Linked DNA regions of Homo sapiens. Changing the gene in region 2 together with the main gene of any one other region gives a genetic interaction. Each region holds a gene or a part of one and is shown on either strand. Other genes may lie near its edges.

What was found.
Region 1: changes in DHX33 (region 2) and GBF1 together harm fitness more than expected from each alone (negative genetic interaction), as found in Homo sapiens cells (one study listed by BioGRID).

Annotation. Positions count from the first base shown.
Region 1 is NC_000010.11:102,235,787-102,252,304, reverse strand, and holds the start of GBF1 (Golgi-specific brefeldin A-resistance guanine nucleotide exchange factor 1), read right to left. Parts: upstream 6,774-16,518; 5' UTR 6,524-6,773; exon of another isoform or gene 6,425-6,523; intron 1-6,424. UniProt on the Homo sapiens protein: Guanine-nucleotide exchange factor (GEF) for members of the Arf family of small GTPases involved in trafficking in the early secretory pathway; its GEF activity initiates the coating of nascent vesicles via the localized generation of activated ARFs through replacement of GDP with GTP.
Region 2 is NC_000017.11:5,440,515-5,456,770, reverse strand, and holds the end of DHX33 (ATP-dependent RNA helicase DHX33), read left to right. Parts: intron 1-588; coding exon 589-774; intron 775-1,499; coding exon 1,500-1,611; intron 1,612-2,790; coding exon 2,791-2,950; intron 2,951-3,102; coding exon 3,103-3,191; intron 3,192-5,836; coding exon 5,837-5,964; intron 5,965-6,364; coding exon 6,365-6,568; intron 6,569-7,875; coding exon 7,876-7,962; intron 7,963-12,257; coding exon 12,258-12,566; 3' UTR 12,567-15,854; downstream 15,855-16,256. UniProt on the Homo sapiens protein: Implicated in nucleolar organization, ribosome biogenesis, protein synthesis and cytoplasmic dsRNA sensing. Stimulates RNA polymerase I transcription of the 47S precursor rRNA.

The DNA.
Region 1 (16,518 bases), on a different chromosome or scaffold from region 2:
GTGCAATGGCACAATCTCGGCTCACCGTAACCTCTGCCTCCCAGGTTTAAGCGATTCTCCTGCCTCAACCTCCCAGCAGCTGGGATTACATTCATGCGCCACCATGCCGGGCCAATTTTGTATTTTTAGTAGAGATGAGGTTTCTCCGTGTTGGTCAGGCTGGTCTCAAACTCCCGGCCTCAGGTGATCTGCCCACCTCGGCCTCCCAAAGTGCTGGGATTACAGGTGTGAGCCACTGCGCCCAGCCCTTTTTTCCACTTTTTTAGCAGAGTATTTTTAGTAGAGTTGGGGTTTCACCATGTTGGCCAGGCTGGTCTCAAACTCCTGGTCTCAAACTCCTGACCTCAAGTGATCTGCCTGCCTCGGCCTCTCAAAGTGCTGGGATTATAGGCATGAACTACCATGCCCGGCCACCCACAGCACTTTGTAGTTATCTCTAAACATATCTTGGCTGGGGACAGTGGCTGATGTCTGTGATCCCAGCACTTTGGGAGGCCAAGGAGGGAGCATCAGTTGAGCCTAGAAGTTCAAGACCAGCTTAGGCAACATGGCGAGACCCTGTCTCTACAAAACATAAAGAAAAATTGGCCAGGTGTGGTGGCGCACACCTGTTGTCCCAGCTACTTGGGAGGCTAAGGCAGGAGGATCACTTGAGCCCAGGAGTTCCAGGTTGCCTTGCGGTATGATCGTGCCACTGTACTCCAGCCTGGGTGACAGAGTGAGACTCTGCCTCAAATAAATAAATGAAAATAAAAATAAACACATCTTATACTAATTTATAATTATTTATTTAGTGTATCACCACCATGGGACTATCAGGCTCTATCTCAGGGGGAAAGACCATGATTTATTTACCCTTTTATCTCCAAAGCCTGACACATAGTAAGAAAAATGATCAATAAATACTAGATGAACAAATGAAATAACATCAAGACTGACTCTTCAAGAGTGGTACAGCACACATCCACCTCATGAGAAAAATGACTTCATAGAAGACAATAACTCTGAGCCACACTGGCAAACCTTTTTTTGATAATATATATTTGCTTCTCTACCAGAAGTTACAAACCTTCCATACAGGTAAAAAGAACCCACATTTACCTACCAGCCATATCATAATGCTTCTTTTTTCACGTCTATCTTCCTGACATCTCCTTAAGTGTTATTTGCACATTCACATTTTTGTGAAATATATAATTTTTAATGTAACTGTCAATTCTTCATATATGCCTTATTTTCTTTGGCTCTAAATAGCTGTTTTTAGTACACTAGTGTTTAAGTGGTTTTTTTTTTTTTCTTAATCACTTTTATGGGGTTTGGTTTTGTGTTTGTTTGGTTGTTTGTTTTGAGACAGAGTTTCGCTCTTGTCGTCTAGGCTGGAGTGCAGTGGCGCAATCTCGGCTCACTGCAACCTCCACCTCCAGGGTTCAAGTGATTCTCCTGCCTCAGCCTCCCGAGTAGCTGGGATTACAGGCGCCCACAACCACGCCTAGCTAATTTTTATATTTTTAGTAGAGACAGCGTTTCACCATGTTGGCCAGGCTGGCCTTTAACTCCTGACCTCAGGTGATCTGCCTCCCTTGACTTCCCAAAGTGCTGGCATTACAGGCATGAGCTACCACGCCCGGCCTCTTAATCACTTTTAAACATTTCCTTGGCCAGGTGCAGTAGCTCTCATCTTTAATCCCAGCACTTTAGGAGGCCAAAGCAGGAGGAATGGTTGAGCTCAGGAGTCAGAGACCAGCCTAGGCAACATAAATTAAAAAAAAAAAAAAAAAAATTAGTGGGACATAGTGATACATGCCTGTAGTTCCAGCCACTAGGGAGCCTAAGGTAGGAGGATCAGTTGAGCCAAAAAAAATCAAGGCTGCAATGGGCTATGATGACACCACTGGACTCTGGGCAACATAGTAAAATCCTGTGTCTACAAAAAACACAAAAATCAGGCAGGCGTGGTGGCACGCACCTATAGTCCCAGCTACTCAGGAGGCTGAGATGGGAGGATCACTTCAGCCTGAGAGGCAAAGGTTGCAGTGAGCCGAGATCTCACACCACTGCATTCCAGCTTGGGTGGCAGAGAGAGACTCTGTCTCAAAAAAAAATTATTCTTATCCAACTAGCAAATAAATTCTCCAAAGGCAAAAGCGCAATTTTGTTTTTCTTTTTCATGATGCCTTTGTGTCTAATACAGAGCTGGGCAAACCAAGAAAAACTGATGGACTTTCTGAAAAGGTAGATGGTAGTAGGGAGCTAAAGGACCAGCAATAGGCCCTTCTAAGGTTTATGTTCACTCAATACCTTTAAAAGCCAGAGAAGGCTGGGCGCATTGGCTCACACCTATAATCCCAGCACTTTGGGAGGCCGAGGTGGGCGGATCACGAAGTCAAGAGTTCAAGACCAGCCTGGCCAATATGGTGAAACCACATCTCTATTAAAAATACAAAAATTAGCTGGGTGTGGTGGCGTGCACCTGTAGTCCCAGCTACTTGGGAGGCTAAGGCAGGAGAATTGCTTGAACCCAGGAGGCGGAGGTTGCAGTGAGCCAAGATCACACCACTGCACTCCAGCCTGGGCAACAGAGCAAGACTCCATCAGAGAAAAAAAAAAAAAAAGCCAGAGAAACACTAAAGATGCAGAGCTTTTAACATTTCCAGAGCTGGCCTAGGAACACATCATAGTTCTGTGCTTTATTGAGAATAACCAAAGTTACTAAACTAGGAAACAACTTACTGAGCTCAAGAAATTTACTTAAAGGGTGGAAGTAAAAGAAGGTTAAACTGGGAAAAAAGCTGGTGCCCTGACAATGCATCACTGGAAAATCCTCCCAGACCTGATAATCGGGTGACCAGGGTACCTCAGCTCTAGCATGCCATCTCCTCCCCCTGTGGAGATTCTGAGAGTATCTCAAAAACCGTTTACAAGGTAAGCTACTAATATGTCCAAAGCTGTCCCTTCTGCCAGCTTGGAGATGAAAAATAAAACAAACCTTCTCTATCTCACTCCATCTTTTAGCCACTCAGGGCACCCAAGGTACAAAGGTGACAGCTGGCAGAGTAGGACAAAGAAAAAAAGTCTATGTGATTATGTATAGAGAACTGCAGTGATTAAGTCTCATAAGGCCTGCCCATTTTGTTTATTGAGGGTCATCATCCAGTAACCATTGGGCAGAATCCAGTCCACAGACATATTTTCTTTGGCCTGAAAAAGGCTTAAAAATACTTTTAACTAGTTTCCAACAATTAGAAAACACAATGATCTAAATTTCCAGTTTCTCCTGAAAAATAGAAAGAGTGGTCATTCTGTGCCTGCACTCTAAAACAGTAACAATCTGCTGAAAAAGGAGCAGTTGGCTCTTCTAAATAAAGGAATGGGTTGAGCATGGTGGTTCATTCCTAAAATCCCAGCACTTTGGGAGGCAAAAGTGGGAGGACTGCTTGAGTCTAGGAGTTCGAAACCAGCCTGAGCAATACAGTGAGACCTTGTCTCTACAAAATATTAAAAAATTAGCTGGGCATGATGGCGCACATCTGTGTTCCCCGCTACTTGGGAGGCTGAGGTAGGAAGATCACTTGAGCCCAGAGGTCAAGGCTGCAGTGAGCTGTGATCGTTCCTCTGCACTCCAGCCGGGGTGACAGAGCAAGACCCTGTCTCAATAAAAAGAAATTAAAATTAAAGACAAAAAAAAAATAAAGGCATGGGTTGTCCAGTACACAACAGTCCCCACTAATCCTAATACATTCCCATGGGACTCAATTAACTCATTTACATTACCTGCCTGGCATTTAGGCACATGAGCTCGTAACCCCTGGTTTATATGATTGGCAAACCATTACTTTGCCATCATACTTCCATGATCATTTACACTACTATTGCATCTATCGTAATTTCCACTACTACTAGAACAAATAATCACTTCTATGATCACTTCTATTATTATTGGGGTTCCAAATCAGCACACTGCTTTATTATATTTTCATTTAGTTAAACAACTGCAGTTGAACATACTGAAATATTAAAAAAAAAAAAGAGTAACAGCTAAACAGCAGCTCATTATATTTACATAGCTCTTCTAGCCTGAGGATAAAATGTCAACAAAAACATACACCCTTAAATTCAATCCCACCATTAACCCAACAACAGAATCATTCTAATCAGTCACACAGAGCCACAGGGATATAGTGTGTGATCAATCAATGAGAAGTGTCATACAAAGATTAGGGTGATCCTTGCAGTGAGTACTCTATAAATAGAGTCTCCTCAAAAGCAAGAGCTGTGTCTTCTTCCTCTTTAGCTGCCCACAGCAGCCAGTCTAAGTACCCTATCAATGAGGTTATTATGTGAAAGTGGCAGTCATCCTGACTTCTGGAAAAGAGGGAAATAAAATAGTAGTGTAACTTTGAGAACTCTGAGCTGAAACTGGGATTGGTGCCCAGCTACTGAGGAGATATGTCTATAGCCTGAGTTCCCACTGTGCCAATGAGCATCACTGTCAAGACTGGAACATACTGTCTACAAACACCATTAAAAAGAAGCTCAAATACAAGCTTGGGACTTGTATTTGAAGGATGAATTTTCTGATTTGTGGGTAGGAGTGGGAATTATTCCTATCTAGAAAATTATTCCTATCTAGAAATGACATTTAGGATTAAAAAAAAGAAAGAGAGAGAAAGAGAAAACGTTTTGATGCCTCTATAGTCACCCTTAGGCTCAACTGAGGATGACTGGATCCTGGATTGATCACACTGCCTACCCAGAGACTAGATTGCCTGTTATGCAAAGCATATCAACTCAACAGGGCAATGGCCCAAGTGAGCAAGGCAGGATCATCAAACCTGGGTACCTCCTGAGGTATGTCATTTCATTTGCTGCGTTCAACTACTTTCTTGGGGGCGGGGAGAGGGGAGGAATTCTACAACTTAGATCAGCAAGTTAAAATGCAAATAGTTTCCTGTACCATTTCCATCTAAATCAACACAGGTGAAGCATAAATAATGCCATCCCCCTTCTCCCAACACACACAAAAATTTCAATTTCATAAGGACGAAGGTAGGAAGGGAAAAGGGAAATTATGAAATTTCAATTTCATAAGGACAAAGGTAGGAAAAATTGAGTTAGTCATTCCAAGATCCTAAATAGTTTTCTCTTCTGACACTATGAGGTTTTGATCCTCCTTGTTACTACCTCATCATGCAAAAGTGCAAAGTGTTCCTGACTGCCAGGGCCAAAAGCAGGCCACAAGTCCTGATCACATACTGAAACTAATCCCAGATAGAGATAACGTTTATTGAGTGCCCACTACATACCAAAAGGTATTAGGTTGATCCTGCTCTTAACCTACTACATGCTCTAGCTAGGCCACTGCACATACATGCTACTACTTTTAAGAAGTGCATTAACTGAGCAGTCCCAAAGCAGACCTTTCCATTTGTATCCTCCACAGGGCCTAGAGTGCCTTTTATACCTGAATTAATGCACAAGTTTCCACATTGTGCATTAAAAAACACCATCTACACTATTCCTTATTTCTAAAAGCATTCGTTACCCTTGGTGGACTTTTATAGCTTTACAACACAGCAGTTTATCAAAGGTCATCACAGTGCCATAAACTACTCTCTAGGGTTATGTTCCATCATTCACTCTGGGGCTCTGACCCTACAATTGGCTGAAAATCTCTCATGACTCTTTTTGCCCACTAAACATAATAGGCCGACAATACCAAACTTTGCCAGTATTCAAATATCTCTCTCTGCTGTCAGTCAAATATGTCATAATAGAGTGGTTTCCTTATGATTAAGCCTCATCTCCTTAGTGAAGATCTGAGAGAAAAATGTCAACAAAAACATACACTACAAAAGAATGCCTGTGAAAGATTGTATAAAGGAACAAACAGGCCCAGAAGATAAGTATAGTGTTTACATACAGACCCAGACTGGCAGCTGAGCTGTCCTGTAAGAGGGAAGCCTTCTCATAGCCCAGTTCCCTGCGCTGCTATAACCTCAAGCCTTCCACACGTCCCTCTGCTGACAACCTGATTCTAGGGTGCACTAGTTCATCATTATTAATGAAGCAGTTCCTTTGTATTAGTGAGGCAATCACAAAGAAGTAGACGCTGTACAGAATCTAGAGAGACTTTCACATCTAAAGTCTGAAAACCCATAAAAGTAGACACAATGCTCCTTAGGTTTGCTTTCAGCTTTTGAGTACTGGGCTCTTCAGGATGCAGAAAGCGCTGGAAAGGAGAAGCTAAATACTAGGTCAAGCCTGGGAAAACAGAAGATTTGGGCACCTGCAAAGGATCAGTAATGAGAGCAGAAATCGCCCCTCCTGCGGCAGAGGCATGACCTTTGCCCCTGCATACCTCCCTGTTCCCTCCCACAACAACCCTTCCCTCGTCTTATTCCTGTCCGCTGCGTCCTTAGCCCACCTTGGCTCGCCCAATTTAAGGGCCCTTCCCACTAATTCCCTATTGCGATGTCAGGGCGGCCTTCACGACACCGGAACTCTAGGAAGAGACTTCGCTGACCTGTCAGCGGATCCAAAATGGCGGGGCCTAGTCCCAGGACCGGCAGCCGCTGCTCATGTCCAGCCCGCACCCCGGAGGCGTCTCCGAGCAGCTCTCCCGGCTCTGGTAGCAGATGGGAGAAGAGAAGGAGCCTGTTTCCTGGAAATTGAGGCCGAAGTCAGGGTGGGACTGCACAGTCCGCCAGGATGAGTCGTCCGGGACGGGCAGTAGAGCCGGGTACCTTCCCTGTCAGCTCACTGACGTGGTAACTAGCCTCAGTCTAGCCCGCTGCCTGGTAACTGCGCGAGCCCTGCCGCGCGCAGCCAATCATAGCTTTGCACCGTGAAAAGTAGCATTCCGACTATCCAATCGAATAAAGGAAATTGGCTTCAGGAGGCGGGTAGTGCCTAAAGAAGCGCGATTACAAGGGAAAGAAAGGGTATGTTAGGGGACAACCAACGGATACGAGTACTCTCTGAGTGACAGTTTAAAAAACCAATAAAAAATGAGGAACTGGGCTGGGCGGCTAGAGAGGTGGAGTTAGGTAGAGTTCGGTTGCAGTGCGCGGTTTGGCAGTGGCTGCTGGGCATTATGGGGAAAAAGGCTACAATTGGCTGGAAAGGGGCGGGGTCCGCTTTGAGAACTTGAGCGGGCATCCCTACTCCCCTGTCCACGTATTATCAAAGTTACCTGGGCCAAGACCATGCCCCTTGAGGAATCACTCCTTTTCGAGGCAGCTCTGGGCTCCCTTCATTCTAAAAACAAGTCCAGCGATCTATTCCACACCCTGCTCTCCTCGCCCTCTTGTCCACCTTCCCTGTCGTGGCTTCTCACAGTTATGTCTGTCACGTCCCAACTCTGTTTCAGCGTCCTCTGCCCCACTCCCATCATCCAGAAATAGAGAAAATGGGACGTAGCAGAAGCCCTGGATATCTAATTTAAGTCTCTTCATTTTACATTATAGGAAACAGCCCCAGGGTGGAAGGCTGGGCCCATGTTCACATAATTAGTAAATAGCAGAGCAGAGAGACGAACCCCTGGGTCTCCTCACCCCCAGGCCAACTCTTTTCATCGCCTTTTGTCACCTCTTATGCCTTAGTATATCGGGCTTTGACTCCCGGTCTGCCTTTCATACCAAGCCTTTGACGGGCCTTATCCACCAGGCTAAATACGCAGCTTAGCCCACCTCATCAGTGATAGGAAACAGAAGTCTTTCTTGTTTGCCTTAGAAACGCTAAGGGGCCTGAGGGTTGGATGCCCACCTGTTTTCACTGTCTTGCCCCCAGCTGCCTCCTCCCCTTGCAAGAGATGATAGAGGTTACTAAGCTATTTAGAATTACCTGTATTACCTGGAAGTGAGAATGCGTGAGAAGAGGACAAGAGGATGGGTTTTCTCCTAGGAGACTGAATCATGAAATTCCCAGCCTATTTGGGACACTAGAGCCCCAGTGTCCCTGCAGACCTGGAGAAGCTGCTGGGAGGCAGTGAAAAAAAAATACCTAATTCTTTCCATACATCCTCCCAATTATGGACGACCCAAGTCCAGGGAAGCTCTATAACTAACCACATAGGAAAGTAGTCTCAAAACCAGACATCCAAAGACCATCCGTGTGCTACGATGCGCTATTTTTTTGTTTTGTTTTGTTTTTTTGTCTTTTGTTTGTTTGTTTGTTTTGAGAGAGTCTTGCTTTGTCATCCAGGATGGAGTGCAGTGCTGTGATCTTGGCTCACTGCAACCTCCACCTCCTGGGTTCAAGTGATTCTCCTGCCTCAGCCTCCCAAGTAGCTGGGATTACAGGCATCTGCCACCACACCAGGCTAATTTTTGTATTTTTAGTAGAGATGGGGTTTCACCATGTTGGACAGGCTGGTCTCGAACTCCTGACCTCAGGTGATCCACCCGCCTCAGCCTCCCAAAGTGTTGAGATTACAGGTGTGAGCCACCACACCTGGCCACGATGCTCTAGTGTAAAGCACCCATCAGATATCAGACGTGAAGAACCCCTCAGTAACTTCCTACACCTGCACATTGGGCTTCTGGTCGGTGGGTCCAGCTGAGGATCTAGCCTCTATCACCCAAAGAGAGTCAGGGAAAGAGGATATACCATCATAGCACCTCTTTCCACATTACCTCAAAGCCATTTTCCTCTTCATTTGAAAACTGAGAGTTGGTGTCCTGGGCCTGTCTCAGATTGAGAGGTCCTGGAAAGCCGATTGGAAAATCCTCTAAGTGGGCCAAAAATTTCTGCTCGCCAATATCTACTTCTACATACCTCCAGAAATTCATCATTCTAAAAGCATGTGATTGTGCAATAGAGATGGGGAGGAGAGAGATGACAATTCCCTAGTCCCTCCTAACCACTAATCATCATCTTACCAGGCAGAACATCTTCCTCATAGATTTCAGTGTGACATTTATTGAGATTCTACATTATGCCTGGGAATAACAGACATGGTCCTTACCCTCCTAAATTTTATTATCATAGCAGACAACACATAAGCTGATCCCTTCAATATGGTGGGTGGTGTAATAGAAGGTATACACTGAGGGTCATGAGAGCAAGGGGCTAAACTGAGAGTTCAGAAAAGGCTTCCCAGAGAAAATAAGACTTGAGTGGAACATTGGAGGAGTAGGAATTGACAATATAAAGATGGGTTACTTTCACAGGAAGGGCCAGAGGTGTGCAGGACACTACTAGGAAATTGGAGATGAAGACAAGGTCAGGTCCTGAAGGTCTTGTATGCCAGGCTAGGGAGCTTGACCTTTATCCTAAGGGCAATGGGAGTCACTGAACAGTCAAGACATGACTGCTCAGATTTGCCTTAGGGGCATATTGTGTGACTGGGCTTAGGCTCTTTTTTTTTTTTTTTTTTGAGACAGAGTCTTGCTCTGTCGCCCAGTCTGGAGTGCAGTGGCGCGATCTCAGCTCACTGCAAGCTCTGCCTCCTGGGTTCACGCCATTCTTCTTCCTCAGCCTCCCCAGTAGCTGAGACTACAGGCACCCGCCACCAAGCCCGGCTAATTTTTTGTATTTTTTAGTAGAGATGGGGTTTCACCGTGTTAGCCAGGGTGGTCTCAATCTCCTGACCTTGTGATCCGCCCGCCTCGGCCTCCCAAAGTGCTGGGATTACAGGCATGAGCCACAGTGTTTGGCCTGGGCTTAGGCTCTTCGGAGCACCCAAGCAACATAGCCTAACTGGGAGAAGAGAAGGAGCCTGTTTCCTGGAAATTGAGGCCTAAGTCAGAGAGGGCCGAAGTCACAGTCTGCCAGGATGTTCCTTGGTCATCTGTCCTGTCCCTTGCAAATTCCTAACCAGCAGGCACCAAGGCCACACCTTGCCCACAGGACTTAACCTGGTACCACCAGCGGGAAACCAGCCCTGCTGAAGGAGGGAGAGCACAGCCTAAGCAAGACAAGGGTACAGACTGAAAGGCAATGCCTTTGGAGTGCCCAGCCCAAGCCCTGAGATCCAGCAGGAACCTCCTCTTAATTGTTTTGCGCGGGGAGGGAGATGATAGTTACTCGTCCAAGTTCACTCAGTGATGGTGCAGTTCGTGGCAGCGTTGGAATACTACTTTGGTTTGTATCATTCCAAACCCTGCTGTCTCCACGAAGTCACCTTCCTTGGAGAAGAAGGGGGAAATGAAGAAGAGGAAAGATATGAGGAAAGAGGAGCAGAGAGAAAGAGAAATGAGTCTTTTAAAGTGGCAGAGGAAGGAGAATGGTAAACAGCAGGAGCGAAGCGGCTGAGGAGAAAGAAGAGGAAAGAAAGGCGAGACGTGGGAGGATTGGAACAGAGACAAAAGGGAGGAGAGACGGACAGCGACAAGTGGAGAAAATCGGCGAAACTTGAGTGGCAGAGAAGTCTGAGCGCTGAGACCCGGCGGCCCCGTGCGCCTTCCCACCTGGCGCCGATCCACTTTCCTCGGGGTAGCGGCCCAACCCACTTCGCTGCCAGCCGATCCCTTTTACCCGTGGCTACCGGGACCACTCTACTCTCGCCCACTTGGCTCTGCCTAAGCGTCCTAGCCGGAGCGCGGTCTCTGCCACGTGGGGAGGGGCGCGGCCGAGTTGCTGAAGAGCGCTTCTGATTGGCCAGAGGGCGGGGTTCTTGGCGTCTCGCCGGCCAGACCCCTCCCTCAAAGGCGGGGCCTGGAGATCCACAGCTGGAAAGGGCGGAGCCCCAGCAGGGCAGCTGGAAAGGGGCGGGGCCTGACGCGCGCGGCTCGCCGCGGCGGGCTGGGGGCGCCCTGGTCTGCCATAAAGTGAATGGGCGCCGGCTGGGGGTGGCAGTACGCGGTGAGGCTCACTCCCTCCGAGAGTCCAGGAGCGCCCGAGCGGAGAGGCGGCCCGGGAGCAGGGGGGCGGCCCCCACTCCGGCCGGGTGCCCGGCCCCTGGCCCCTGCCTGCCCTCTAGATCGCCGCCGCAGCCGCCGCTACTGGGAGTCTGCCTGTTGCAGGACGCACTGTGAGTGTTTGACCATTCTAAGGACAGGGGCTCATGGGGCCGAGGAGCTATTGCTGGACCTTGGAATCCCTAAAACGAGACCTGGGGCAGCTGAACTCCGGTGCCTTGGGAACAGGTCGAGAATGGGAGGGCGGACTGCAGACCTGGGGCCAGGACTTGGGAAAAGGGAAACTCAGGGTAAGAACCAGGGGATAGGGAAGGGGGAGACTCAGAGGATCCGGAACGAAGCCGGAGACTTGAAACCAGGATAGGGGCTTCGCGAGGCAGGGAGTAGGGAGTCTGGAAACCATTACCAGAAAGCGCCCTGGAATCCCAGGGCACGGGGCAGGCGGCCAGGGAGCGAAAGGGGTTACAGAGGCCCTGGCCAGCGGGGGAGCTGGCGGGGCGGCCCCCAGTGTGGGGGCAGTTGACGGCGCCCGATGCCCCTCGGCCTAGGCTCAGACTCCTGGGGCTGGGAGCCGGGGTGCGCCTGGTCGCACACGCTTCTCTTCCCAGCTGCTCCGCAGTTGGAATAGGAGCTGTGTTGTGAGAGCCCGGCCGCGACTGAGTCAGATGGCCGCTGTGCGGATCAGAGTGACCAGGCGGCGGGTATAGTGGATCTGGCTTGGGGTGTCTGGGCCCAGAAGGGTCCTGACTTGAGGCCGCCTCAGAATCGGACAGAATGTCCGCGGTGCATGGGGCTCGGAGCGGACAGAATGTCCGGGTAGCGAAGTGGGTCTCTCCGGAGCGGGAGTTGTGTCTGGCAGTGGCGGACAGAATGTCCCTGGCTGGGTGGCATGTCCGTCTACCCAGCAGCGCCTGCCCAGCTGCTGCGTGTGCGATGGGGTCGGCTGCGGTGGGTCACCTCAAATCCCAGCTCACACTTTGCAAACTTGTTTCAGCTCCTTCGGGCTGCGAAGCTGTGAGCAGGGAGCGAGAGTAAAGGCTACAACCTGGCCTTGGGGTGAGGTGGGCTGGGACACATGCCCCCTTCAATTCAGAATAGATCAGAGCATCACTCTGTACTTCCAGAATCCAAATTTGAGGACAGAAGGCCAATGAGGAGCCTGCTAGTGGGAATCAAGACCAGGAAAGGAAGGAATAGGTGACAAAAGGCAATGGGAAAACAGGAAGGAGCTGGGTACAAGCCCCTGGCAGCCTCAGTTGCCCCCTAATTCCAATACAATTAACCAGACACCCCCCAGACTCCTTGCTGGAGTATCAGGCGACCAATGGCTCCTTCCCTACAGTGGGCAGGAGCCCAGGCCAGAAGAGAAAACTACAGCCCCATTAGCAAAGCAAATCCTGTGGTCCTGTTTCCCTTTTTCTTCCTCAGCCCTACCAGTCCCAACACCACCCTGGTGGCTGAGCGGAGGTGGGAAGGAGGCTCATGGAATCCAGACTCTGGAGTCCAACAGGGGGCTATCTGGCCCTCTCAGTCTGGTTGGGAAGGATATCTTGGCCCTACCTAACAGCCGGGTTTACTTTCCCTGCAGCTGGGATACAGCCCTGACTCTGCTGGGCCCATACAGTGACCATCCACCCTGACCCCAATTCTAACCACAGCTCAATTATGCTGAAGAGGACAGAACAGGGAGAACGAGTCCATATAAGTGAGCAAGATAGCCCAGCTGGGGACTGAGTTTTCACAAGGACAAGTGCAAGGCATTGTATTTAGCAATGAGTAATCTAAACAGTGGTTTCAACCTTTCTTACCCTTCACCTGTGAGTGACATACAATACGTATTCCCCATACTCCCATGTCCATTCCTCAGTTCTAAAGTTTGCTTATTACTGGCTAGGATTCTCAACTTTTGTTTTTCATTTGCCCTATTTTGATCAATATAAAGACACACCACAATTATCCCCATCACATTCTGATACACTTTTCAGGGGCTTGTGCTCCCATTGCTGTGCTCCCATAAAATCACTGAAATTATAGGTGAAATGAAGGACTCTGTGTCAGGAAAGGAACAGGGAAAGCATTACAGATGGTTCCCTGAAGACTTTAGCTCAAAGTTGGCTTTTGCCAAAAAGGCCAAAGAGGTGGTATCATAATGAAGGTGATTGGAAACAAAAGACAGAACCTTTTCCCACCCTTGCATAAAGCCTTGTAACTGAACGCATGCCTGGTCACTGGCTCTTAGGAAGAATGTCATGGGCCTAGAGTAGGGTCAGAGAATGATTGGCAGAATGGGGAGCCAGGGGTTGCTGGTGAGGGCAAATTTCAAAGTTTAGTCCTCTGGAAGGTGAGACAGGATGGAAATCTACAGCATAATAAAAGACCTAGATATGCAGAAGAATTGCTTGCTCCCCAAATCTTGAAACTGGAGATGAGGGGGCCTTTTAGAACTGGAGTGATGCAAGCTCAGGATGAATAGAAAAATGTTCTTTGGCACACAGTGGGCAGCATACTTCCAGAGCTCATTTCCAGAGAGATGATAGAGGCAGGAAGTAGAAATGGAATCCTTCAGGGTTTGGAAGGATCAGCACATGTCAGAGTCACAAATGGCTACAGGGTGGAGGGAGTGAGGCATGGAAAGAGCAGAACTAGATGGTTTGAATCTCTTCAAATCTCTTCAAACTGTGTAACCTTGCATCCTGCCTTCTTAGAGGTGTAATGGGGATAGGCACTCCAGCCATGCAGGGCAGTTGTGCGAGTTAAATGAAATTATGTCTGTGAAGGCCCTCTGCAAATGGAGGAGCATCATATAAATAAGAAGCACTGCTATTATTATGCCCAAGCTGCAGAATCTTTGTTTGGAAAAGTGGGGCTGAGACTTAGAGCAGCCTAATCTCATCCCTGATGCAGCCATAGGAGGGATCTTAATGACAGACGGGCCACCCTATCGTGGACTTCAGATGCTGGCCACTACCCCTGCCGCTGTCTGAGAACTCTGGGGAGCTCCCCAAATGCTCAGCCTGTCTACCAGGCCAAATATCTCTGCCTGCCTCCTGCTCAGGGATGGGAACATTGGCCCAGGACTCAGGTTCAGGACGGGAGGGCAAACGCAGCAGGCTAGAGCTGACTTGTGGTGACTGAAGGATGGGGCCAGTAGAATCTTTTCTTCTCCATTCACACTAAATGATGCCTCCTAGACTAACCTGAAGGATCCATTAGGTCCTGAGCTTTGGGGTGTCTAGGGTGTCCATGGCCACTGCCAGGGACTCATGAAAAGAATGATGGGGAGGAAAAGGAAAAGATCATCAGTGGGGTAAGAGTTGGGGGAAGACAGAGAGGAATAACTTTCAAAACTCTATCTCTCCTTTCCCATTGTCCTGCCCCGGGGCCTTTTTTACACCTTTCAGTTAATAGTTTCTCCTTTCCTATTTCTTCCCTGCCCAACCCTTTATGCTCACCATGGTCAAATAAAGGTCACAAAGATGCTGTTTTTTGTCACACCCCTGGATACAAGCCTCCAGTGACCCCTACTGCTTGGTGCATTGCTTCTCATAGTGGGGTGGGCGGGGGAGGAGGGCAGTACGGGAGTGGAGGAGGCATGACACACAGTCTAAACAGGGCCCATCTTCCTGGTGTGGTGATATCACTTGAAGATTGGGGGGTTTTATATTAAAAAAAGCTTTATTTTTATATTAAAATATTTTATAATCCATGACTAAAGTATGGAATAGAACGAAAAATTTGTTTGCATTTTTAACATAAAGCTGGTGACCTCAAAACAATTTCATACTAGTGGCAGCTGTTTCAGGTCATGCTTCTGTTTTCTAGTAGATGTTGTTTTTGACTGGTCTTAGGGTTTTTTTCTTTATTCAGGGCTGTTGCTCAGTGTGAATCTTAGCGGTTTTTGATGAAAAAGCTGGACATACTGTAGCCTAGACTTTGTCAAATCTGAACCACTGCCCCTTGTCCCCCATTGGAGGCCCCCTCGGTTTGACTCGTTTCTCTCTGCAGATCTCCCGTGGCCTACACTGAGACTCTGACTAACCTAGGCTCACCACTGCCCTCCCAGCCTGCCAGCTTATTCCCAACACTGCTGATTATTTAGAATGCCATACCCCTTCTCTTCCTCTTGAACTCCCAATTCAGTCACGTGCCTATATTCTCTGAGCTCCCAACACTCGGTACCACCTTCCATGGGCTTCCCTCTCTCTGATCTCCCACAGTCTGGGAGTCAGACCCATGCGGTCCATCTTTCCATCCTGTGCTCTGTTTGCCTCCCTACACTGCAGACTCCTACAAGATAGGGTCTCTGCCTTACTGTTCTTGGGATCCCTCTTAACACCTAATACTTGCTGAAGGAAGGAAGCAAGGAAGAGCAGGAAGACTGTGGAGTCATTTCTCTGATCCCCGAATCGTCCCTTAATAACTTGAGTGCTTCAAATCTTTGCTGCAAATGTGTCTCGATTTGCTCCCATTTGCACACTGCAGTTCAGCAAACCATAGAGTCTGGGTGCTCAGCGTCCCTAATGAACATGCAGCCATGTCCACTTAAGGACCTCACTTCAGTTTCATGTTTATAAGATGAAAACATCACAACTCCAGCTCCTCTCATCTCTCCATTTAGCCCCTGAATGAGAAAGGTTTTCTCCTATTTGAGTTCCAGGTTATGCCTCCAGCCTCAGGCATTATTATTGCAACCGATTGTGGGCTCTCACTATGTCCCTGGTCTACCTCTCTGGCTTCAGGACTTAAGTGGGTCCACATGACAGCTGACTTATTGCCATGGGGTTGTGTCTCTTGGAAACCATGGCCTCCCCACTGTGGCCTCCCTGGCCTGGGATCTGCTCTCCACCTTCATATGTCCTGGATATTTCATTCTTGCTGCAGTCCATGACCAGGCTTCCTGTAATTCCAGCCTGTACTACAGAATCAGAGCATACCTGTAGGCCCTCTGTACTCCCTGGGCCTGGGATTGCCACCCTGATACCAGTGGGACTGGGCCACACATCCCTCACATCCCTAGCAGGGTGTGGCAAAAAGTCTAGGGGTGGGGCCGGCAGCCCCCTTCCAGAGCTGGACTCACCATCACTGTTATCTTCTGACTCTCTCTGTCCCTGCCTGGGCATTTCTTACTAGCATCAACCAATCCTGCGGCTTCCAGACCTACTGCTTGTTCTTCCCTATCCACTGAGTGAGGCGAAGTCCCTGGCCTCAGTCCCAACTCCCTAGCTTCCTGACCTCCAGCAGTTTGGGGGAGCTTAATCTTCAGCCAGCCTGTCTCCAGCTCAGACAACAGCTTGGCGCCCCCAGCCTTTGCCTGACCAGCCCACCCGGACGTGAGTCGGCTAGAGGTCTATGCCCCCACCCTTCCATCTCTCTATTGCCTGCCTGGCTTTACTGTTCTTTCCTTCTCTCTTCAGTTTCACGGTCAGGTCCCTTCTCAGCTGTGGCTCCTCTCTCTGCTGTTACTAGCCCATGCAAGAGCCTAAAGGCTTCATTCTTTCCTCTACCAGTCCCTTGTCCCCAAAGTGGCTCCCAGCTTGGGTTACTCTGCCCATTTTGCTGTTACCTTGTTGACTGGGTCACCTATGCTCAGGACAGAGTGTTCACAGCATGTGTTGCCTATCTCTCAGTAATGCAGCGTACTCACCTTCATTCACCAGGG
Region 2 (16,256 bases):
TCAAGATGCTTATAAAAGAAAGGAAGCTTCATGCAGATTTTATTTGCTTGCCTGATTATGCTTTTCATGGTATTGTTCTTGTTAGAAAAATCAATCTGATGATTTCCCTTCAAAATTTCATCACTTGGCCTATAAACATAGCTGGCTAACTCCTATATATTACAGTTTTGTTTTTTGTGTTTTTGAGTCAGGTTCTCGTTCTGTCGCCCAGGCTGGAGTGGAGTGGCAAGCAGCTGGAACTATAGGCATGTGTCACCACCCCTGACCAATTTAAAAAAAAGTGTTTTGTAGAGATGGGATCTTGCTGCGTTGCCCAGGCTGGTCACAAACTCCTGGCTGCAAACGATCCTCCCGCCTCAGCCTCCCAAAGTGCTGGGTTTACAGGCGTGAGCCATCACACCCAGCCTGTTACCATTTACACACTGCTGGTAAGGGTTCTCTCCAAGCTAGACATCAACTTTTAGGCTCATTTACATTTCTATAGTTAAGAGAAATAACTCTGGGAAACATCATCAATCACCATTGTCTTTTTCTGTGCAAGCTGCAATTCTATCAATGCCTAGTAAACCCACTCTACTTTTTTTACAGGAAGCCCCTTCTTCACAGGACATCCTGGTGTTCCTCACTGGGCAGGAGGAGATCGAAGCCATGAGCAAGACGTGCCGAGACATTGCAAAGCACCTCCCAGACGGCTGCCCTGCGATGCTGGTCCTTCCTCTGTACGCCTCCCTGCCCTATGCACAGCAGCTCCGAGTCTTCCAAGGGGCCCCAAAGGTGAGTGCACCACCTCTTCTGTCCAGCCCTATTCTGGGCACCCAGACGGATCCACCAGCGAGGTCTGTACCTGTTACCAGGCTCCAGATAAGGTGTATGGGATGGGATACCCAGGTGCCAGATCAGCGCACTGAGGAGGTGCAGGAATAAAATGCGCGGTGACACACGCAGCGCTCCTGTGACAGGAGCAGGGAGACAGTTGTTGGGATGAGGGAGAGTATAAACCAAAGCTGCAAGGTAAACGAGTGACTTCTAAGGACCAGCATAAATTGCATTTGTCCATAGTGCCATTTCTTGTGTGCCTTTGCCGTGCCAGGCACTGTGCTAGCATTTATATCCACTGTCTGTCATCCTCGTGGGAACCGGCAAGGCAGGTTATGATCCCATGGGGATCCTGAGGCCCCAAGAAGGGAAGTAACAATTGCTCAAGGGGGCGCATAGTAAGTCACTGGCAGGGCCACGATTCCAACCCACATCTACTTGCTTCTGATTCCTGTGCTTGTTCCACTGCATCTCATTGCCTCAAATTGACCTTTAAGACTGCAGCGTCCCCTTCCCCTGCCCGGTTTAATGACCAACCATTAATATTAATGACTGCCATTAATAATGGAGTCATCTTCTGTTGGTCAAGAGTGAATTGTGGAAGTTAATGGTGAGAATATGTTTGAAGACTTCTGAATCATCCGTGTGTCAATGCGGCTTTTTGGTTTTCTTCCTCCTTTTAGGGCTATCGCAAAGTGATCATTTCAACCAACATCGCTGAAACCTCCATAACCATTACAGGAATAAAATATGTAGTTGACACGGGCATGGTTAAAGCAAAGAAGTATAACCCTGGTGAGAATTTGTAGTTCATGAATGTCTCTCCTGTGTCTAGTGAGCAGCCACTGAAACTGTAGTCCCACAGTTTTCCCCTGAGTGTTTCATGTTTGTAACTAACAAATTCAGGTGGCAGGCGCCATGAGTGAGATCACCTACACTCCAGGTCCGCGAAGGAGTCCTGAGGCGGGTATGTGAGACAGGAAGTAGAGGCAGGAAAGAAGAGCCCAGGTTGAGCAAACTTGGGCACACAGGGTCAGGGACCTGGGCAGAGGGTCTGGTACCCCATCAGAAGTCGGCTCTAAGGCCAGGGACAGCTGGGTGTCAATCAAAGGGTGTCATCAGAAACTATATATATATGGCTGGTTTGAGCTCCCAGGTTTCTCAGGAAGGAACCAGATCTCCTGGCTGAGGTGAGGCATGGAAGGAGCACTGGCTTCTCCTAAGAAGGTGCAGTGAGAAGCTAACTTAAGGTCATCTTGACTCATGTCTGTTTTATACTTTGCTTTATTCCACAGAGGATTTGAGACCACTGAAATTATTGCTCCCAATTATTGAACTGAAATGCTCTAGTAAACATTTGAGGGTCCTGGCTTCCACAGGTGTATCTTTTTGTGATGACGTAGGTGAAAGAGCTTGGGTCTCCAGTGCCAGGCTAATGATACACCTTTATCAAGAAAATGAACCTCATTTACTGCTAGAAAACAGACATCACATTATTTCTGTCTTACAGCAGAACTGGGAGGGAGGATAAAGCACACAAGTGATTTGAGGCATTTAATTTCGTAGTCATTGATTGATAGTATGACCCCCATCCTAGTTTGCTGAAACTCCCAGTTTTAGCACCCAAAATCCGACATCCCAGGAAACCCTCTGTCCCAAGCAAACTGGAGGGGTTGGCCATCCTACCATCTAAGGCAAGACCTCGGAAACTACTCTTCTCGCCCCTTGCTGCATGCGTGAGGTTTTTCTGATGTTTTTGTAACAGATTTCACAGTGGGCTTATGGCAAAGCCTTGTTTCACTAGGGCCAAACCGCTGCGGAGCAGTCTGGTTTTGTGCTGTCCATTGTGCTAGCCTTGAGGCTTTCTGGACCCCCGTGTTGCTGAAAGAACCACTGGTGTGCTTCTTTTTATCGACACTGTAGAAAGAGTTTGTTCATGTGATGAAGCACTAATGGGGCTCACTCTCCATCCAGACAGTGGTCTTGAGGTGTTAGCAGTGCAGCGGGTATCGAAGACGCAGGCTTGGCAGCGCACAGGGAGGGCTGGCAGAGAGGACAGTGGCATCTGCTACCGGCTCTACACGGAGGACGAGTTTGAGAAGTTTGATAAGATGACCGTGCCAGAGATCCAGAGGTAGGCACCAGTTGCTCCTGCACTGCTGCTGTTTGTCACCATGTCTCTCCTGCTTGCCCAGAGCTGCAGTTTTTACTCACACTCCACCATGAGGGGTTCTGACTCAATGGCAGAGGGATCAGGTCATGACCCTGGTCTCATGCTCTTCACAGGTGTAACCTGGCCAGTGTGATGCTTCAGCTTCTAGCAATGAAAGTCCCAAATGTGCTCACCTTTGACTTCATGTCGAAGCCATCTCCAGGTAAGTGAAATCCACAGTTTTGCAGAAGGTGGGTGAGGAGACAAACAACAACAAATGGACACTTCCAAAAAAATAAAGTATATTGGTCATCTCCTTTTGTTTATTTAATTTTGTGGATGACAACATTAGTTATTAGAGAAGCATCTGAAAATCATGAAATGATAGATAGATACATTGATTGACTTTTAAAGAGACAGGGTCTCACTGTGTGGCCCAGGTGGAGGTGCAGTGACTATTCACAGGCTCCATCACAGCCTCCAACTCCTGGGCTCCAGCGATCCCCCCGCCTCAGCCTCCCAAGTAGCTGGGACCACAGGCATGCGCCAGTGTTCCTAGCTATGAAACGATAGATTCTGTACTATCAGCACCATCAATAAAGTTCCTTGACCTCTGGAACCAGTGAAGGTCATCATGCGAGTCCTTGGGATACTACAGAAATGTAATGAAATTGTACTTTTATCAGCACAGGGACTGCAAAGATCACATTTCTTTGCCTTTAACTGGAATTTGATCCATCTCTCCTGTTCATTAGTAATTTCTCTACAGAAGAAGAAAATAATTGGAAATATTTATGATATTGGCTTTGGCACCTGGCCTCTCATCAACGCACCATTTTCCTTTTCTTTTTATTGCCCCCCCTTTTCTTAAGAAATGCAATTGGTTTAAAAAAGAAGGAAAGAAAACACAAAGTCACCAGTTGATGGGTATACAAGGGTCCTGCCCTGATCCTCAGGTTCACAGTTTCCTTCCCCTAGAACAACCACTGGAACCATTTTCTAGTAGACTTCTAGAGCAAATGTATGCATATATGAGTATATGTAGTGTGTTTGATTTTATTTATGTATTTATTTATTTATTTTTGAGACAGGGTCTCACTCTGGTTGTCCAGGCTGGAGTGCAGTGGCACATTCTCAGCACACTGCAGCCTCAACCTCCCGGGCTCAGGTGATTCTCCCACATCAGCTTCCCAAGTAGCTGGGACTACAGGTGTGAGCCACCAAGCCCCTGCTGTAGTATGTTTTTGTTTTTGTTTTTGTTTTGAGACAGGGTCTCACTCTGTTGCCCAGGCTGGAGTGCAGTGGTGCGATCCCAGCTCACTGCAACCTCCACCTGCCGGGTTCAGGTGATTCTCCTGCCTCAGCCTCCCGAGTAGCTAGGACTACAGGTGTGCACCACCATGCCCGGCTAATTTTTGTATTTTTTAGTATAGATGGAGTTTCACTATGTTGACCAGGCTGGTCTTGAACTCCTGACCTAGGTGGTCCGCCCACCTCGGTCTCCCAAAGTGCTGGGATTACAGGCGTGAGCCACCACGCCCAGCCTGTAGTATGTTTTAAAACACAAATAGCAACACACATTGAGTATTGTTCTGTGCTTGATTTTTTTTCTTTCATTGCTAAATTCTTACATACAAATGAAGAAGATACATAAGGTGTAAGGAATGGTTAAAATCTAACACCTGTGTACCCAATTGAAGCCCCCAGGAGTCCCCCCCACCCACTTGCCCTCGCCTCCTTCCACTCTTTTGGGGTACCCACTCTTCCATATTTTGTTTGTAATTGCCTTGCTTTTCTTCACTGTTTTACTATATGCGTATGTATCCCTAAACCACCTGTTGTTTGTAAGTTTATGTTAGTTATTCTTGAGTAAGCGGTTTTCATTCAGCTTGTTCCGTATAGTATATTTGTGCTGATGCTTTTTCACACTAAGTGCTATTCCATTCTGTGAATAAACCAAAATGCATTTATCCATCCTTCAGTTGATAAATATTGCTTTAAAAAAGCAATGAGAAACACACTGCTTTTTTTCATTTAATACATTTTACAGATCACTCCTTATTGGGATGTATATATTTACTACATCCTTAGAAATGCTTTTTTATTCTTTAATAGGTACTATATTTACATGGTTCAAAGTTTAAAATATATAAAATAGTAAATAGTAATAATGTCCTTCTCATCCCCTTGTCTCCCAGCCTCCCCAGCTGGCCCCTGAGACAACTGCTATTTCCACTGTTATGTGTTTGGTTCTGGCGATATGGTCTCTGTGCGATGTGTATCTGCAGGTGAAATTCGTAAGTGTAACATTGCTGGGTCAGATGTTACACTTTTAATGTGTATATTCAAAATCTACATACATATTGCCAAATTACAGGTCATTTAAAAAGAAAATTGAGGCTGGGCATGGTGGCTCACACCTGTAATCCTAGCACTTTGGGAGGTCAAGGTGGGCAGATCACCTGAGGTCAAGAGTTTGAGACCAGCCTGGCTAACATGGTGAAACCCCGTCTCACTAAAAATACAAAAATTAGCTGGGCGCGGTGGTGGGCGCCTGTGGTCCCAGCTATAGGGGAGGCTGAGGCAGGAGAATCGCTGGAACCCAGGAGGCAGAGGCTGCAATGAGCCGAGATCACGCCATTGCACTTCAGTGTGGGCAACAGAGCAAGACTCTGTCTCAAAAAAGAAAAGGGAATTGAACTAAAGACAGTGATGTCGTTCTTTGACAAGTGTGTCAAGGGGGCAGTGGCGGTTATGATTTTTGCTGTTGTTTGATGTAGAATTATCAGAAGCTCCCAGAAATACTGAACTAGCTGCAACTTCATTTTTTTGGACTTTTGGCTCCTTTTTATGTCTCTGTTTCTTTAGATCACATTCAGGCGGCCATTGCCCAACTGGACCTGTTAGGTGCTCTTGAACATAAGGATGACCAGCTTACCCTGACTCCAATGGGAAGAAAGATGGCAGCATTTCCTTTAGAACCCAAATTTGCCAAAGTAAATGATACCCTCTCCTCAGTCCTCTTTCTGTACATTACAGTTAACCGTCCCAAAGTAGTACCATCTACCCAGTGCTTCTAGATTAATCTCACTTTTTCTCTTACATAATTACCAACCCCTAGTTTGCAAATAGCCCTGATTCATGTTCAGTGTGGGATTCAAAGAGATGAAGTTAAGAGCCCCTACCCACAAGAAATTTGGAACTCTGTAGGGAAGGCAGTCACCTGTTTTATTGAATATTAAAGAGTGAAATAACACTAATGTACATCGCCATGGTTTTAGAAATACCTGCCCTTTAACTCCTTAGAAGGGAAACTGCAAAAGCAATGTACAGAAATAGTGCATTCTAAAGCTAGGAGAAAGCTGGGTTTACACAATTTTAAATTTTGCTTTGCAGACCATCCTCATGTCCCCCAAATTCCACTGTACAGAGGAGATCCTGACCATTGTCTCCCTGCTGTCTGTGGACAGCGTCCTCCACAACCCTCCTTCCCGGCGAGAGGAAGTGCAAGGGGTCCGCAAGAAGTTCATATCCAGCGAGGGGGATCACATGACCCTGCTCAATATCTATCGGACCTTCAAAAACCTAGGCGGAAATAAGGTGAGCCTTGTCTTGCACCTGTTCTCCAGCGATAGCTGCTTGTCTCTGCTATGTGCTTCCCTTTTTCTACTGAAGCCGTGCAAAAAGTACGCTTTCCCTTTTTGGCTAAATTATCTAAAGAATCACAAAAAGAAAGCCAGACAGCATTTCAGAAATGCTTCAGTACCGAAGCAGTGTCATTCTGGTCTCTGTTCCGAATGTGTTTAAGTCAACAAGACTTAAGTGACTCCCAACCCATCAAAACTTAATTGGAACTTGATTAAGTAATATGTCTAATAATGATAGTGCGTACCAATGAATGAGTACTTACTCTGTGCCAAGCCCCATGCTAAGCACTTCTTAATGTAAGATCTCATTTATTCAGTAAAGTAATCCTAAGAAATGAGCACTATAATTATTATTTTTTATATTCATGAAACATGTAGTCATGGAAACGAAGCTTCGTGCAGTTGAAAAACTTGCCCAGGGCCAGGCACAGTGTCTCAAGCTTGTAATCCCAGCACTTTGGGAAGCCAGGGCAGGTGGATCACTTGAGCCCAGGACTTCCAGACCAGCCTGGCCAACATGGCAAAACCCCGTCTCTACTAAAAATACAAGAATTAGCCGGGCGTGGTTGTGCATACCTGTAATCCCAGCTACTCGGGAGGCTGAGGCATGAGAATCATTTGAACCTGGGAGGCAGAGGTTGCAGTGAGCCGAGATCGTGCCACTGCACTCCAGCCTAGGTGACAGAGCGAGACTCTATCTATCTCCAAAAAAAGAAAAAAGAAAGAAGTCTTACATAAATTGACTGGGCATTTCTGTTTTGTTTTCTGTGTCTGTTCATATCCTTTGTCCATTTTTCTACTGGGTCGTTGGTCTTTTTCTTAATGACTTGTAGAACTTTTAAAATCAATTCTAGAGATTCTAATCATTTATTGGGTATGATGAGACAAATATCCCAATCTGGGAAACTTCAAGTTTTTCTTTAGTTTAAATTATTAACACTTTTCTTATAGTTCATGTTTTTTGATATAAAGATATTTTCCTACGTTTCTTTTTGGCACCTGAAGTTTTTTCTCTGAATTCAACTGTGTTCTAAAAATGTTGTTATATTTTCTCTATAGAGATGAGAGGATTGTTAGCTGGGCATGGTGGCATGTGCAGATAGTTCAAGCTATCTGGGAGGCTGAGGTGGGAGGATTGGTTTGCAGTGAGCTATGATTGTATCACTGCACTCCAGCCTAGGGAACAGAGCAAGACCCCGTCTCTGTGAACATATAAATGGTGAATGAGTGGATTGTGATATCACTCTTTCTCCTATTCAGGATTGGTGCAAAGAGAATTTTGTCAACAGCAAGAATATGACGCTGGTAGCAGAAGTCAGAGCACAGCTGAGGGACATCTGCTTAAAGGTATCGTCTGGTCCTAGTGTTCTGTGGGTGACAAAGCTGTCACTTTGTTCAAGGTAGAAATTTTGAAGTTGCTTATTGCTAGTGATTATAAAAGGATTTCTCATTGTAGCAAATTTCACAAATAAGAAAAAAGGAAGTTACCCACAATTCCACAATTCAGTAGTTTAGCCTATTTCCTAATAGCCTAGTTTTTATTGTATTTTTTTACATAGTAAATTATATGTATAATTTATATTTGGTTTTATAATCTTTATAAGCATTTTCCAGTGTTAGAATTCTTCATAAGATTTTTTTTAAGTATGAATATCTGCATTATTTCCTTTTAGATTACCAAAGTTGTGTATAGTATTTGACACAATGCAGAAAATAGTGATTTATAATGTAGAAAGTTTAAAAGTCTCCCATAATCCTGCCCCTCCAGAGATAACTACTGTTAACAGTTTGGGGTAGCTCCTTCTAGAATTTGTTTCTGTGTATGTATGTTTTTGTGCATGTCTCTGTGCCTGTGTGTGAGCACACACATAACGGATACGTGCATATGAGGTACATGTTCCACAACTTCCTTTCTTCCACATGGCATATTTCTTTCTTTCTTTCTTTCTTGTTTATTATTTGAGACAGAGTCTTGCTCTGTCACCCAGGCTGGAGTGCAGTGGTACCATCTTGGCTCACCACAGCCTCCGCTCACTGCAACCTCTGCCTCCCGAGTTCAGGTGATTCTCCTGCCTCAGCCTCCCGAGTAGCTGGGATTACAGGCGTGCGTCACCACGCCTGGCTAATTTTTGTATTTTTAGTAGAGACGGGGTTTCACCACGTTGGCCAGACTGGTCTCGAACTCCTGACCTCAGGTGATTTGCCCGCCTCGGCCTCCCGAAGTGCTGGGATTCCAGGTGTGAGCCACTGTGCCTGGCCTCACATGCGTATTTCTCAAATCCTTCCTGTGGCTGGGCTTTCAGTGCTGCATGTGTCTAGCTCATTCATTTTAGTGATTTCATAGCATTTCATTGTATTCAGTGCAGTTTATTTAAGCCTCTAATAATGGTCATTTAGATTCTGTTGTAGTGACCATCCTCCGTATGTGCTGTGGTGCACACAGAATGAATTTCTAGATGGGGGAATTTGGATTTTGTTAGATATTGCCAAAGTGTCCACCGCAAAGTGTTTTTTTTCCTTTCTTTTTTTTTGAGACGGAGTTTTGCTCTTGTTGCCCAGGCTGGAGTGCAGTGGCGCGATCTTGGCTCACCACAACCTCTGCCTCCCGTGTTCAAGCAATTCTCCTGCCTCAGCCTCCCGAGTAGCTGGGACTACAGGCATGACCCACCACACCCGGCTAATATTTTGTATTTTTAGTAGAGACGAGGTTTCACCATGTTAGCCAGGATGGTTTTGGCCTCCCAAAGTGCTGGGATTACAGGCGTGAGCCACCACGCCCGGCCTAATTTTTTGTATTTTTAGTAGAGACGGGGTTTCACTATGTTGGCCAGGCTGGTCTCGAACTCCTGACCTCAGGCGATCCACTGGCCTTGGCCTCCCAAAGTGCTGGGGTTCCAGGTGTGAGCCACTGTGCCCGGCCCACAAAGTTTTATATTAGCTTTTTATTCCCTCTTAGAGTACATGGTGTTTTAAAGAGCTGTCATGGTATATTTAATGCTCGCATGACACTCCACATTTTATGTCAGAGATAGAGGGTAGCGGAAGTGTTCTTTTGCTGTTGATCACTGAGACAGTGTCCGTGTGTTTGCTGCTGTCCTGAGTACTCTGTGGTGAATGTCTTGTGCCCCCTCAGTGCGGACGCTGCTGGGAGACAGTCACAGCCTGTACCCAGGCCTGTGTCTGATGCCAACGGCCTACGGTTGGCACTAGAGCTGTTTCTTCTCATAGTAGCCTATTGTATTCTGTCTTTCACACATTTTTTTAAACTGCTTTTGTATTTGAACAGTTTCCTGCCAGTCTGTCTCTTGGCTTCATAAGTTTTCTCAATTTATCATTGACAGTAGAAACGGTGCTTCTCTATTAGTTGTGAATTTAGGACCCTGTAGTGGCCAGGGATACCTCTCATTATATGTCAGGCACTGGTAAGGTCCTGAGACTTTACAGACATGCCTACTCAGTAACTAAGTAATAATCTAGATGGTGACCTGACGTACATACACTCATGCCAGGAGGCCATCAAATTAAAATAATCACTATCATTCATGAAGTGTTTGTTCAGCACTGTTCTGAGTACTTTTTATGTGGCTGCCTTATTTAAACTCCTCATTTCTTTTTTTTTCTTTTTCAACTCAGACCTTAACCCAAAGGATAAAATCCTCATTTCAACCTATAAGATTGATTCTTTTGTTATTCCCATTTTACAAATGATGAAACTAAGCCTAATCAGGTTAAATAATTTGCCCCAAATCACTCAGCCAGTGAGTGGTAAAGCTGATAGTCTGGAAGGAGAGACCACCAGTTAGCCTCTGGGGCTTCTTGGAGGTGGTGACAACTGAGCTAGATCTTGACAGATAAGGAGATAAAAGAGTATCTTCCAGGCCAGGTGTGGTGGCTGGCTTATGCCTCTAGTCCCAGCACTTTGGGAGGCCCAAGCAGGTGGATTGCTTGAGGCCAAGAGTTCGAAATCAGCCTGACCAACATGGTGAAACCCCATCTCTGCTAAAAATACAAAACTAAGCTGAGCGTGGTGGTGCATGCCTATAACCCCAGCTACTCAGGAGGCTGAGGCACAAAAATCGCTTGAACCCAGGAGGCAGAGGTTGCCAGCGAGCTGGGATTGTGCCACTGCACTCCAGCCTGGGCAACAGAGTGAGACCCTGTCTCTTAAAAAAAAGTATCTTCTTCAGGCATAGATCAGCTGATTGTCAACAACAGAAACCCTAGAGCCATCATAAAGGACAAAATAAAGATTCTTCCAAGGATGGAAAGGTATCTCTGAGAACCGATAGGCAGGAAATAGAGTCACAGGAACCAGAAAAAGCCTGCAGGAGCCAGGCCCGCCACTTTCTCTGGACCTGCTGCTTCTCTTGCTTTGAGTGCCCTCTGCGTGCCTCCTTCCCTTTTCTCACCTTTACCTCCGCATGGAAGTGATTTCTCTGCATGGCCCCTCCACTCAAGAGCCCAGCAGAGATTGACAAGTTTTCCAGTTTCAAACCTAAAAGATGCCTGGAAGAGAAAAGCTGGCCAGCTTAGGTCCAGCGTGTGTGTACCACTGGTTTGTTCATCTGTGCCCAGGGGCGTAGGTTACATGCCCCACTCATCAAGAGCAGTAGAACAAGGACATTGACTGGTGACTGACATTTCCTCTGATGAGACAGGCAGCATTTCTACTAAGAGTAGCAAATGTGAAGGCACAGATAGGAATCATGAAACGGGGCGAGGAAAGAGAAGGCAGCCAGCTATGGGGGACCATGGAGTGTCTAAAGAAGAGTGGTGAGGCCGGGCGCGGTGGCTCACGCCTGTAATCCCAGCACTTTGGGAGGCCAAGGCGGGCAGATCACTTGAGGTCAGGAGTTCAAGACCAGCCTGACCAAAATGGTGAAACCCCGTTTCTACTAAAAATACAAAAATTAGCCAGGCGTGGTGGCAGGCGCCTGTAATCCCAGCTACTTGGGAGGCTAGGGCAGGAGAATAGCTTGAACCTGGGAGGTGGAGGTTGCAATGAGCTGAGATTGCGCCATTGCACTCCAGCCTGGGTGACAGAGGGAGACTCAGCCTCAAAAAAAAAAAAAGAAAGAAAGAAAAAGAGCGGTGAGAGGAAAGACAGGCGAGCAGCTCAGGGTGGCTCCTTCGTGGCTTCACCACGGGAAGTTTGCATTGTTTTGCAAGGAGCAGTAGAGACATTGTTGAAGGTATTTGAGTGGATGAAGAGTGATTCGAGTTGTGCTTTAGGTAGATTAGCTTGGCAGCAGCAGGTGGGTGAATCGGAGTGAGGAGATGGTGAGATGGTCAAAGCGAGAGGGAAGGGCCTTTCCTTTCCGGGCCGTCCTGATGGAATTTAGGTGAGGGGTGGGTCACCCAACCTGCCTGTGGTCTGGTGGCTAATGTGAGCACCTCCCTCCCAGCCCTACCTTCACAGGCGGTAGTTTCCCTGTTTCTGGTCCGTGCTCCTCCAGCTGGGCCTTCTTCCCCTGACCTTGCTGATCCTTGGTGACCACCTCCGAATGTCAGAATCCACATCGTTAGGCTCACAATGTGGGCTGCTTTTGCCCCAGTGGGTCCAGTTGCCCCAACACGCTGTGTAGTGCTGACCAGTGTTTACGTGTGGGGTCGGCTCCATTCCTCGCTTTCTCCCGAAACAGATGTCAATGCCAATCGCATCATCCCGAGGAGACGTGGAGAGTGTCCGCCGCTGCCTGGCTCACAGCCTCTTCATGAGCACCGCCGAGCTTCAGCCAGATGGCACCTATGCCACCACGGACACCCACCAGCCAGTGGCCATCCACCCGTCGTCTGTCCTCTTCCACTGCAAGCCGGCCTGCGTCGTGTACACTGAGCTGCTCTACACCAACAAGTGCTACATGCGGGACCTCTGCGTCATAGATGCACAGTGGCTGTACGAGGCTGCCCCTGAGTACTTTAGGAGGAAGCTGAGAACCGCCAGAAACTGAGCCGCCCCAGGATGCCGCCAGAATCACTGGTCCCTGGGAGCTTGGACTACAGTTGTCCTTACAGCAGGCTTCCAGGTTGGCGCTTAGAGAAGCCTTGGAATCAGCTGAAGGTGCCTGACTTCCAGGAGCGTGAAAGCATCTTTGCTCAACTCCTGGGACTGAACCATATAGACATGGACATATCATTTGTACCTGGAAACCTCAAAATTATGCTTTTGGTTCTTACTGGGTGACTTTGACTTAATTTAACACCTGAGCCTCAGTTTTCTCATCTGCCAAATGGGAGTAATAATAATAATCCTTATAAAATTGGGTTCATAAAGTTTAGAGAAAAGGAATGGAAAGTACCCAGAACTATGCCTGGAGCACGCACGACACACGTACAGTGAGTTGGGAGCCGTTAGGCTGAATGTTACTGCTTGCCATATGATGTGAAGTACAGCAATATCCCAAGTTCTTGTGACTGAGGGAGATTTTCTGGAAGGGCCACAGGAGGTTGCGGAGCTTGGATGTTGCCCTTAGTTCTTGTTTAATGTCTCTCTGAATGCAGTTTTAAAATAGAAAACAAAACTGACTTCTGTAGAAGTTTCCAGAGGGAGGTGCTGTTATCTCGTACCTCCTGGGATGGCGATCCCTACTGAACGCTTGTGTCTCAGGGTGGACCACTCTGTGTCTGTCTCCAAGCAGAGACCAGTAAAGGAGCCTCCTGGTCCTCAGTGCGTGACCCTGTCAGTGCTTTCAGGAGACATGTAAGCTTCCTGGGTGAAGGTTGATTTGTACCTTCTGAATCCTGTCACGTGTAGACATGGGAAACTGACCTATCAGTGTTTTGTGTGTGTAGGTGACTCCCACATACACAGTTGCCATTTTTCTCTCTAACTGGGCACCAGTGAACATGCGGGCATGAGGAGTGACTGTGTACCATTTCAGCTGTTTCTTTTCGGGCAGTCCCCTGGTCAGAGGGGGTGGGGGTGGGGGAGGGGAGAGGGGTACCTAGAACCCAGAGAACATTGGCTTATGCCAGATACCACACCACATCTGGGCTTACATTCTTGTATCTTTTTTGGTGTGTGGGCGGGGGGGGTGGGGGGCAGTTCAGTGAAGTCTAGAAGACCTGCTGGACAAATTCTAAAAGAGCTAGAGCTGTAACACTTATTCTTGCATCTTATTAATTTTCTATGATATTTTTTCCTTCTTCGTAGGGACTTGGGACAATCTGGCTTTGCTGCTTTCTAACTGCTAGGCACCTCTCTCTAACCCTCATTGTCAGAGGGAATTGGAGGATATCCACAGTCTGTTCCTGTTCTGATATTCTGAGCAGAGAAAAGGCACTAACGGTTCCTCTTAGCTATTTAATTATCAGAAGCAAGTAATCTTTCCCCAGATAATATTTTGCCCTAGAAGAAGCCGTGATTTAGCTCTTTTATTGTGCTTACTTGGTCCAAATACATCTGTGGGGTGTTTTGTCATTTCTTAATGAATGAATCATAGTTATAACCAGGGGCCAAGCTGCCCAAGAGGCTCTTCAGAGATCATGGATGCTCTCTTTCTGGAAGCTGTGGCCTGATGGAGCAGCCCCATTCCAGGGTCCCATCTGTCCGGAGTTGTGTATGTCAAGTCCGGCTCAGTCTTTATTTCCAACACTAGCCGTGGTCCTGTGCAGTCAAGCTCTCAGCTAGTGTTTAGGGCTGTCTGTCAGAAATGGTTATACGTGGGCAAAAGAAGATCTGACAGCTCCTATATACCTTATCTTACTGAATTCTTAAACTTTGAACCAGTTCTTCCACTTACTGACTTGTTACCACTGCTGACTTTCTGAAAAGTTTTCCAGTTTTTGTTTTTTGTTTTTTGTTTTCCAGTAGGGGATTAGAATGTTTAGTCCTACTTAGTAAGAAAAATATTGTATTTTTAATCATTCATAGTGCTGGTAAAAAAAAAAAAAAAAAAAAAAAAATTGGGGGGTGGCCGGGCGCAGTGGCTCACACCTGTAATCCCAGCACTTTGGGAGGCCAAGGCGGGCGGATCACCTCATGCCTGTAATCCCAGCATTGGGATGGGAGGCTGAGGTGGGTGGATTGCTTGAGAAGTTCAAGACCAGCCTGGCCAACATGGCAAAACCCCGTCTCTACTAAAAATAGAAAACTTAGCTGGGCATGGTGGCACACGCCTGTAATCCCAGCTACCGGGGAGGCTGAGGCACAAGAATTGCTTGAACTTGGGAGGCAGAGTTTGTAGTGAGCCAAGATCACGCCACTGCATTCCAGCCTGGCCGACAGTGTGAGACGGTCTCAGAAAAAAAAAGAAAGAAAGAAAGAAAAAGAAAAAACTTGGGGTAATTTATGTCCAGCTTAAGTACCTGAACAGTTTCCGGAAATGTATATTTTTTTTCTGAGAGGCAAAGGATGTAAACAGCTTCTAAGTAGCTTTAATGTTTCTGTACAGAAATAAGTTTATCCCTGTAACATTGTGGTAGAGTTTTAATACAGTATTTAGTTTTTTATTGGGCTTTTTTAAAAAGTTAACTTTTAACATAGCTGCTCAGGGATTAAATCAGATTGGAAAACCCATTCTGACTCCACATACTGCTACAAAGAAATACATCGTTGTTTATATTGAGCTGCAGGAGATAGTACACTTTAAACTTAAGAAAGTTAAATGTTTCACAATAACATTGCAATATAATCTTCAGCTACTCTCTTTCCATTGGTAAAATCTCTGATGGTGTGATAACTCTTTGCCAACCTACGAAACCCATATCTGGAAGAATCACCAGCTCCCGTGAGCAGCTTCATGTAAATAGATGCACTCCAAGCAGATTGCATGCCTCAGGTGTTTGTCTTCTAGTAATCATGGAGTGTGCAACACCCAGAGTAACACTACAAGGGGCAGGACTGCAAACAGCAGGTCCTGGCTAAAAACCCTTAATGCTGCATTGCTGCCAGTTGTAAAGAGATGCCTGAATGGAGGCAAGTTCTGCCCTGTGGGTGAAACTGATGATGTACTGTACTGTCATATATAAATCCACTAAATCCAGCTACCAGGAACTGCCTGGAACTGTGGCCATGCATTTTTTTTTTTCTTTAAAGACCAGTGTGATAGTAGGCCATGCATCTGAGATACGATATTCCTTGGTAACTAGAGGGAGAAAAAAAAATCAAGTAGGTTCAGGCTTATGTTGTATTTTGAGAGTCTGGTTTTATTTGAACAGAAATAACTCTACAGAAAGCTCTTGTAAATAATGCTCAAATTTGCACCCGACGATCAAATCCATTAAAAATGAATCTTGTATATGATGTGTGTGGCTTGTTTCTTGCATCTCTTTTCCATTATTCATAGAAAATTATTTAGAAAATATTAAGTGTTAGTCTTACCATGAGTTAGTAAGACATACCTTCTTAGTAGCTTATATGTCCTGTATATCCTGGGAAGGTAGGATTGTTGATTTTTAATAAATCTGAACCCTGTCTTTGGGTTATATTAATTTACTGGAGAAACTCACAGAACTCAGGGAAACACATTTACCGGTTTCATACAAAAGATATGACCAAGGATACAGATAAGGAGATGAGCAGGGTGGGGAATGGGGAAGAAGCTCCCAGCCTCCATGCCGTCCCTGGACCACCACCCTCCAGGAACCTCCATGTATTTAGCTATCAGAGGCTCTCCAAACCCTGTCCTCGGGTTTTTATG